Linked DNA regions of Homo sapiens: region 2 is linked to region 1. Evidence: fine-mapped expression QTL. A gene starts in region 1. The other region holds a variant in brackets. All regions are shown on one strand. Distances are between the middles of the regions.

The links. PIP is the estimated chance that this variant, and not a neighbour inherited with it, causes the effect. A credible set is the group of variants that fine-mapping cannot tell apart.
Region 2: its variant is the best candidate, but not a certain one, in a credible set for the expression of CYTL1 in whole blood (TOPMed, PIP 0.58).

Annotation. Positions count from the first base shown.
Region 1 is chr4:5,017,588-5,021,981 of GRCh38, forward strand. It overlaps CYTL1 (cytokine like 1), which reads right to left and starts at 1,871. Exons shown (of 4, transcript NM_018659.3): 1 at 1,706-1,871. The coding sequence starts at 1,858. It also overlaps a transcript of STK32B not described here.
Region 2 is chr4:5,037,989-5,042,382 of GRCh38, forward strand. LOC107986256 (a long non-coding RNA gene) reads right to left here. Exons shown (of 3, transcript XR_007058005.1): 3 at 1,634-2,075. It also overlaps a transcript of STK32B not described here. Among named protein-coding and RNA genes, the nearest start is that of STK32B, 11 kb to the right of the region's middle. The variant G/A (reference allele first, on the strand shown) is at 2,692.

The DNA of each region.
Region 1 (4,394 bases):
GTTGTATAAGTTAGTTATATAGTAACTTATATAATAATATACTTATATAATAACTTATATAAGTATATTAGCTATATAACAGTTGTATAACTGCATGTAATTATAGACATTATATATACTTACATAAGTACGATATATGTAATAATACCTATTGTTCTATAGGCATTCTATAGCTAATATGTAGTTGTATATAGTGTATAATATAGTAATATCGAAGTGCATAAATTTGCATACTTTTATATTTCTATATTGGGCTTCCGTTTTTGCGCAGGGCTGAAGGGCAAAAGCCCTCGTGCTCTGCCCTCTCAGTAATCCCCGTGTGACCATGGGCAAGTGCCTTCCTTCAGTCCTCAGTTGTGAAATTAGAGATTTAGAATGCATAATCTTTCCACTTTCTTCCCGCTCTGTGGTTCAGAGCCTCTGAACTTTTTAAACCTTTTAAAATCAGATTCCTTTAAAAGATGATTGCTGTCTATATTCGATAACAAGAAACTTGTGGGTAAATTGTGGTGAAACTGTACAACAAAATGTTAAAACAAAAATGAACTTATTTGATAGTGTCATTAAAAAGTAAGTTGCAAAACTGCTTGTGCTGTTTGACCCAAATTTTGTTTACACACACACACACACACAACACACACGTATTTGAATACCTATATGTAGACAGAAAGCTGAAATATGATCCTCCACAATGCTACGGCAGCAGCTACCTCTAGGTGGTAGAATTACAAGCAAGATTTTTTTTCTTCTTTGTACTTTATTTTCCAACTGTTCTACAAAGTACAATACTTTTATAATTAGGGAAAAAATACATGTTATTTAACTTTTAAAAAGAAAATACCAAGAAGGTGTTAGCTAGGCTTTTGTAAACCCCAACATCTGAGAAACATTATGTTTTGTTTGAAGCATTTGCAAGTGATTAAAAGACACTTTGAAACTTTACAAAAGCTTTTAATGAAGTTTAATGCATTTTGTTTCGACGGAGAAGCAGGCAGAGGCCTGGGTTCTAGTCCCCAAAAGCCCTCCCGGGTCTTCCCCTCTCTGAGTCCCCAGATCTGCCTCTGAAGATCGTGCTCACATCAGCTGGCATCTGTTGAGTACTTGTTCCTGTAGGCTTGGCTCTGTGAGCCCTGCCTGTGTTCACACCTGCCTTTGATCGTCAAAGCCACTCTAAAGGGAGGGGTGCTACTGTCATCCCATTTTACAGACAAGAAAACTGAAAGGCAGAGGCTGAGAAATTTGCCCGGGTCCCTCAGCAGATGAGGGGCGGAGGCCAGTTCTGTGAGCCACCTCTTAGGGCACACTCCTCACTAGGCTAACAAAAGCAATACACAAGCTTCATTCCTCCGTCCTCCTTAACTCTGATGGGGAGCTGTTTTTCTCCCCATCCTCCCACTCCTTTTTTTTTCTTTTTTCTTTTTTTTTTTTTTTTTTTTTTTTACATTTTACAACAGATCCTTTGATATTTGCTAGTAAGTCACAAAAATTGTGTTGTCTTTACTTTTTCTTGTGTTTTGAAGAAAGCAAACCATTGGTATCATATTTAAAAGGAGATGAATAAAACACAAATACTCCTGAGATTTACATTTACTAGAAAAGAAAAATATCCTTTTCTCTCTCTCTCTCTTTTTTTTTTCGTGTAAAGGCAAGGGTTTAAGAACTGGGTCTGCCATGCACCCCTGTCCTGAGCGGGCGGGGGACTCACCGAGGGCTCCGAGACCTGCAGGAGGTTGAAGTCGCGGGTGATCTCCTGGCTCAGGGCCCGCATGCGGGAGTAGCAGGTCGGGGGAGTGGGCCGCGCGGCGGGGGCTCCCGCCAGGAGCAGCAGCAGCACGGGCAGAGGCCCAGGCGTCCTCATGGTGCCAGGCGCTGGTGCAGCCTCGCCGACCGCCCCTTTATGCAGGCTGGGGGTGGTCCAGGGCGGCTCCACGCCTCCACTTCCTGTGGGGCCAGCGCAGGCTGCGGTCCATCCAGGGTGGCAGAGAGGAAGCCAGCACGCCCACCGGGCAGGGTCGGGACAGGAATCCTCTCAGACACGAAAGCCCCAGGTTAAGAGGAGGGGCTGCCTGGAGGAGGGGGTGACAGAGGGTGGCTTTGCCTCCCCCACACTTTCAGCAAGAAATTTCTTTCTGCACAGGGACTTTTCCTGAAAAGGCAGGAACAGCAGATGGAGAGGGGTGGGGGATAAGAGGAGGACAGAGATGGAAGGAGGGGAGGGTCAGAGGAGAGGAGTGGGCAGTCAGGCCTGGGTTTGGATGGCACGGTTTGTCAAAATGGATATAGTGCCAGGAGGGAAAGGGACTAGCAGGGGATGACTGAGCATCCCTCCCTCCAGGCAGCCCGCAGTGGAGCAGGGATGCAGAGCTGCGGTCAGGCCACCGGTGTCCTCGTCCATCAATCGCTAACCAGGTAGGTGAGCCTTGGGCCAGGGCCCCCAGCCTCTCAGAAGCCGTGTGTGTCTCTCGGTCCGGAGGATGGGCTCACTGAGCGGCCGTATGTGTGGGGAGTGTGAGTACCCCCACCCTCTTCTACCTCAAGCTCCCAGCACAGGCCCCGAGGGAGAGCAGACCCTCAGGAAGGGTTAGTTTTCAAGAAGTGCATCTCCCTCAGGGCTAACTTCCCAAGACAGTGGCAGGTAAAGGTCTAGGCTCTCCACTTAGACGCCGTGGGTGCAAAGCAGGGTCACCGCCTTCTGGCTTTGACCTTGGGCAAGTTTCTTCAGTGTTTCCTCCATCTCCTTATCTGTGAGATGAGGCTGGTGAGAGTGGCTCACTCAAAAGGCCATAGTGAGGAATCAACAGGATATAGCATGACTGAGCAAGCCTCATGCCAGGCCCATTGTGTGTTTCCAAGTGATCGGAGCTAATAGCACTGTCTCTGTTAAATCCAGCAATTGTCTCTGTGAGGTAGGTGCCACAGAAAAGAGTCCCATTTTCCAGGTGGGAAAACTGAGGCTCAAGAGTTCCAGCAACTTGCTGGAGGTCACAAAGCTGGAGGCACATGGGTTGGGATGAGACTTCAGGCCCTGTCCTCCTGCCATTCTTCCATCCCACAGGGCAGGATGGGTGAGGAGCAGGACTCTTGCAGGCAGAGATGAGTTGGGGTCCTCAGGCTGCCCAAGATCAGGCAACAAGCAAGAAGGAACTGTCAAAAGGGAGAAGATTCTTCCTTAACACTGAACATGACTTACATACCAGCAGCCACCAGGCCAGCTGCCATTGGGAACGCTATGACCCTCACAGCCAGCCAATGAAGTGAATGGGGTTATTCCCAATTCCCAGGCGAGGAAACTGAGGGCCTCGGGGGATGTGAAGCTGGGAAGAGCAGTGGAGCCCTGGAGCTATGTCTGGACTTTCCTGCCTCCAAAGCTTCCTCCAACAAAGGAGGAAAGGGGAGCATCCTGGGCAAGCTCCACATTCCCAGAACAAAACAACCAAAGATGCAGCCCACAGGGATGGGTGAACCAGAGCATGGCATCCTGGACACAGGGCTGGACTGAGGATCAACCACAGGGATGAAGCCCGGCTCCAGCTTGTCCCCACTGTATTTGCCAGGAGAAATCCCTTCTCGACCTGGCCTCCATTCCCTGTCTGTAAACAGGATAGCATCACGCTGGGCGATGTCTGAGGTTCCTTCCAGCCCCAGTGTTTTATTTATCTAGTTTCTGGTGGTAAAAGCCCTGGGCAGGGACTGTAAGCTGTGCCTTCCTGTTTTGTAGGTGAGAATGTGTTCTCTAAACACCTTTAGCAAGATGACATAGGGACCGCGGCCTTCGGGCAGAACTGTGTGTGCTTGGAGGTGGCAAGTGGAGGCACAGATGTGTTTTCTTCTGGGTGAAGGAGTCTCCACACTCCCTCCATGATAGTGCCTGGGGCATGGGCCTCCCTGGCAGAATAGCTGGCCCCAGCTGGGGACTCTAGGTCTGCTTTAAAATGCTCTAGGGCTTCTGGATGTGCTCAAGGAATGGGCTTAAATTCAGAGCAGGGAAGAAAAACAAGCCCATGGACCAAACAAGTCCTGCACCATTAGATCAAGGAGACATTGCTGTGCTGGAAAACAGGAGTCATTTGTGAGATAAATGTACTGCTGGGAGACTTGACCTTGTTCCACCCGCAATACCGTGTGTGGTTATTCATGGGACTTCTTGGGTAAATCAGCTGAGCTCAGAGCTGCAAAGAGGCTTATAGGCCTTCCCATTGAGCATGAGAATGAATGAGTAAGTGGCTGTAGCCATAAGCTGTCACTGGTACCAACTGAGATATGGTGGATGCTGGGCCCCTGAGGAGTCACAGTCAGTGGGGAGACAAGGAATGAGGCTGTTGTGCACTGGGCCAGGTGCAAGAGAATCGCCACCTCTCACTCTACCAAGCCAGGAGTGGGATGAATGGGAAGAA
Region 2 (4,394 bases), 20 kb after region 1:
CCCCACCCGTCCATCCTTGCTTTGCCAGACCCTTGGCTAAGAAAATGCCAGCCAACACTGTGTTCTCAAGTGACTCTCAGTTCTTAGAAACAAAATGATGGAATTTCAGTATTGGAAAAATGCTTAGACATGACCTCATCCCTACCCAAGCTGGTTCATGAATCATCCCCATAAAATTCCTGGCATGCCAATTAAAACCATTCAGCTGTTCATTCATTCTTTCATTTTGCTGAACATTTGTTAGGTACCTATATCGTTCTGGAGGCAAGGAAGGATGACGATGACAATGATGACCTTGGCCTCAACGAGTCTGCATTTGTTTAGATATGGATTAAGCTGATGAACCAAAGGAATCCCCAAATTCAAAACATAGTCATGCATTGCTTAATGACGGGGATACATTCTGAGAAACGTGTGTTGGGCAATTTCAGCATTGTGCAAACATTGCTGCACAAATCATAGAGAATACTTACACAGCCCTAGGTGGTGAAGCCTACTATATGCCTAGGCTGCATGGTCTAGCCTACTGCTACTAGGCTACAAACCTGTGCAGCATGCTACTGTACTGAACACCATAGGCAACTGTAACACAATGCATTTGTTAACACAAAGTATTCGTGTATCTAAATCTATCTAAATACAGAAAAGGGACTATAAAAATAAGGTATAAAATAAACAATAATAAACTTGGATAGGGTACTTACAATGAATGGAGCTTGCAGGACTGGAGAGTTGCTCTGGATGAGTGAGTAGCTGGTGAGTGAATGGGAAGGCCTAGGACATGACTGTATTATACTTTAGATTTCAGAAACTCTGTACACTTTGGCTACACTCAATTTATAAAAACATATTTTATTTCTTTAATAATAAATTAGCCTTAACTTACTATAACTTTTTTTACTTTATGAACTTTTTAATATTTTTAAACTTTTTGACTCTTTTGTAATAACATAGCATAAAACACAAACATACTGTACAGCTATACAAAATTTCTTTCTTTTTTTTTTTTTTTTTTTGAGATGGGATCTTACTCTTTTGCCCAGGTTGGAGTGCAGTGGCATGATCATAGCCCACAGCAGTCTCCAACTCCTGGGCTCAAGTAATCTTCCCACTTCAGCCTTCTGAATAGCTGGGATGGCAGGCATATGCCATCATGCCCAGATATATATATATTTTTTGTATTTTTGGTAGAGATGGGGTCTTGCTATGTCGCTCAGGCTGGTCTTAAACTCCCAGACTCAAGTGATCCTTCTGTGTACCTCAGCCTTCCAAAGTGTTGGGATTACAGGCACGAGGCACCACACTTGGCCACTTTCTGTCTTTATAACCTGAATCTATAAGCGTTTTTCTACTTAAAAATTTCTTTAGAACTTTGTGTTAAAAACTAAGACACAAATACGCACATTAGCCTAGGTCTCACAGGGTCGGGATCATCAATTTCTGCTTCCACATCTTGCTCACTGGACAGTCTTAGGGGCAGTGACATGCATGGAGCTGTCATCTCCTAGGATAACAATGCCTTCTTCTAGAATCCCTCCTGGGGGACCTGCCTGAGGCTGCTTCATAACTAACTTTTTTCTGCATAAATAGGAGGCACACATTTTAAAATAATGATAAAAGTATAGTAAGTACATAAACTTTTAACATAGTCATTTATTATCATTATCAGGTGTTATGTACTGTATGTAATTCTATGTGCTAAATTCTATGATTGACAGTGCAAGGAGGTGTGTTTACACCAGTACCACTGCAAACACGTGAGGAATGCATTGTGCTACGAAGTCATGATGGCTGCCATGTCACCAGGAAATAGGAATGTTGAGCTCTGTGATAATCTTATTGTACATGTGGTCCATTGCTGCCCAAAATGTCATGATGCTGCACACGACTGTTAAGTGGTATCACCAAGACAGTGTCTATCCTCTCTTAACAGTCCAGAGGCAGTAGGCGGTCCAGGTCAGGTAGGCCATTCTGCTACATGAGGACGTCCCACACCACGGCTACTTCCTTGTGGTTGCTCTGCTACTCCCTGGAGTGCCGTCCTCCCCAGCAGGTCTTCAGGTGGTCATCACAGCCTGCAGGAGTGGTAGGAGATGCGGTCGGTGCATGTGTCATTTCTCACATCCTGTTGGCTGGAACTTAATTCCATGGCCACTCCCACCTGCAAAGGCAATTGGAACACCTAGTCCCTAGCCCAGTGGCCATGTGCTCAGCTAACACTGGAGGTGTATGTTCTATTTGTAAAAAGAAAGAAGGGGTAAGTGGATACCATGAACAAGTAGGTGTCTCTGCCACACTGCCCAACTCCTTCATTTTTTTCAGTTTACAGATGGGGAAAATGAGGCCTATAGAAGGGAAGTGACTTCTCTCAGTGCACATGATGAGGCAGTGGCAGTAGAATTTTTTTTTTTTTTTTTTTTTTTTGAGACGAAGTCTCGCTGTGTCGCCAGGCTGGAGAGCAGTGGCACGATCTTGGCTCACTGCAACCTCCGCCTCCTGGGTTCAAGCAATTCTCCTACCTCAGCTTCCCGAGTAGCTGGGATTACAGATGAGTGCCACCATGCCCAGCTAATTTTTGTATTTTTAGTAGAGACAGGGTTTCACCATGTTGGCCAAGATGGTCTCAATCGCTTGACCTCGTAATCTGCCCTCCTTGGCCTCTGAAAGTGCTGGGATTACAGGTGCCACTGC[G/A]CCCGGCCAAGCAGTAGAACTTTTAAGGCCTGTCTCCTGCCCTGTAGGCCACACACTGGCTACCTCAATATAGTCAGATGTTGCTTCACCATGGGACATGGTCTGAGATATGCGTTGTCACCACATGCCAAGATGGTACAGTTGACTACATGCCCAGGCTATGTGGTGTAGCCAATAGCTCCTAGGCTACAAACCTGTGCAGCATGAATACCCTAGGCAACTGTAACACATTGGCAAGTATTTGTGTATGCATACACAGAAAAGGTGCAGAAAAATACAGTAGTCTCATCTCATGGGGCCACTGTTGGGTGTGCGGCCCATCCTTGATGGAGACATCGTTATGTGTCATGTGACTGTGTCTAGTGCCTTTTAGTAAGTCATTGTTATCACTTCTGCTACGTATGGTTCCTGCTTTCTGAAAGAGGAGTCTCTTCTCGTTGATAGAAACGATTCTTTACATCACTGCTTCTGAGTCCTTTTCTTCAGGGAAATGGGTGGGTTCATGGAGCCTTTTAAAGAGCTGTGACAGATTTTGACTCTCTTCCTATAAAAATAACCAAATATGTGCAAGCAGACAACACACGCACACACACACAAGTTCAAGTACAGTTTCAGAGTGTTCATGACGACTCCCTTAAGCCCCTAAGAATCCCTATAAACCCAGGCAAGAATACAATGAAATACATTGCACAGATGTTGCGTTTGGCAGCTACGGAGCCTTCCTTCTGACCCAGCCTGGTTCACAGTACAGCTAGAATTCTCCACAGACACTTAATTTGAGGTCACCATGGAGCTACTATGCAAATTATTTTAATGTAAGAACAAGAAGCTCAGAATTGCTGGGCTACCAAGTTCCCAACTATGAAAATGCCTCTAGGGAAGTTTTATAATGCCAAGAAATGCAGACACTCTACATTAGTAGCAATTTATGGACCCCTATTTTGAGTGAGCACTCAACGCACACACACGCACACATAAAGACTCTTAACAATAAAAGACTGCTCTTGAAGTTATTATTTTTAAGTCATTATGGATAATTCGCTATCTGAGTGAGATGACTTTCAACAACAGAACTGGATGTGCAAACTATTTCTTATCTTGGTGTGCCACAAAACAGCCTTTATCTTTTTTTTTTTCTTTACAATGCACAATGCTGCCAAACAGAACATATTGAAATTGAGTGCAAGCAGACGGTATTTACTCTAAGCAAACCAGACTCAAGTTTTAAATAAAATAGGCTTAACATAAACGATAACAAAATCTGATATAGCAGACTCTACAAAATGGCTTGGCACAGAAGACGCCCTGCTCCAGGGAATCACATTAGCTTCTACAGCGTGATCGTGTTACATAAAATTAAATGTTACGGCTTTAGGGTTTATGGCTCCAAATGCAAGTATGGTGATTACTTGATTGTGTTCTCAGCAAGAGGAATAGCAGCCACAAGACTCTACTCATGTACATGTAAGTCAGAAAAAGAATCCCAGTTCATATTTCTGTGCCTACATTTGGGATTTGAGAAGTAACAAGAGTCATGTGCTCAACCCCTTGTTAGAGCCACAGGAGAAGTTCTAAACCATAATTTCCATGATCTCTCCATAGTCTACGTTCTGGGAAAGCCAAGCAGACTCAGCACATATAAGTAGTTGGTTTATATTTTATTGTTTTGCACATAATTAGAAGAACTTTATAAAACTTCATCC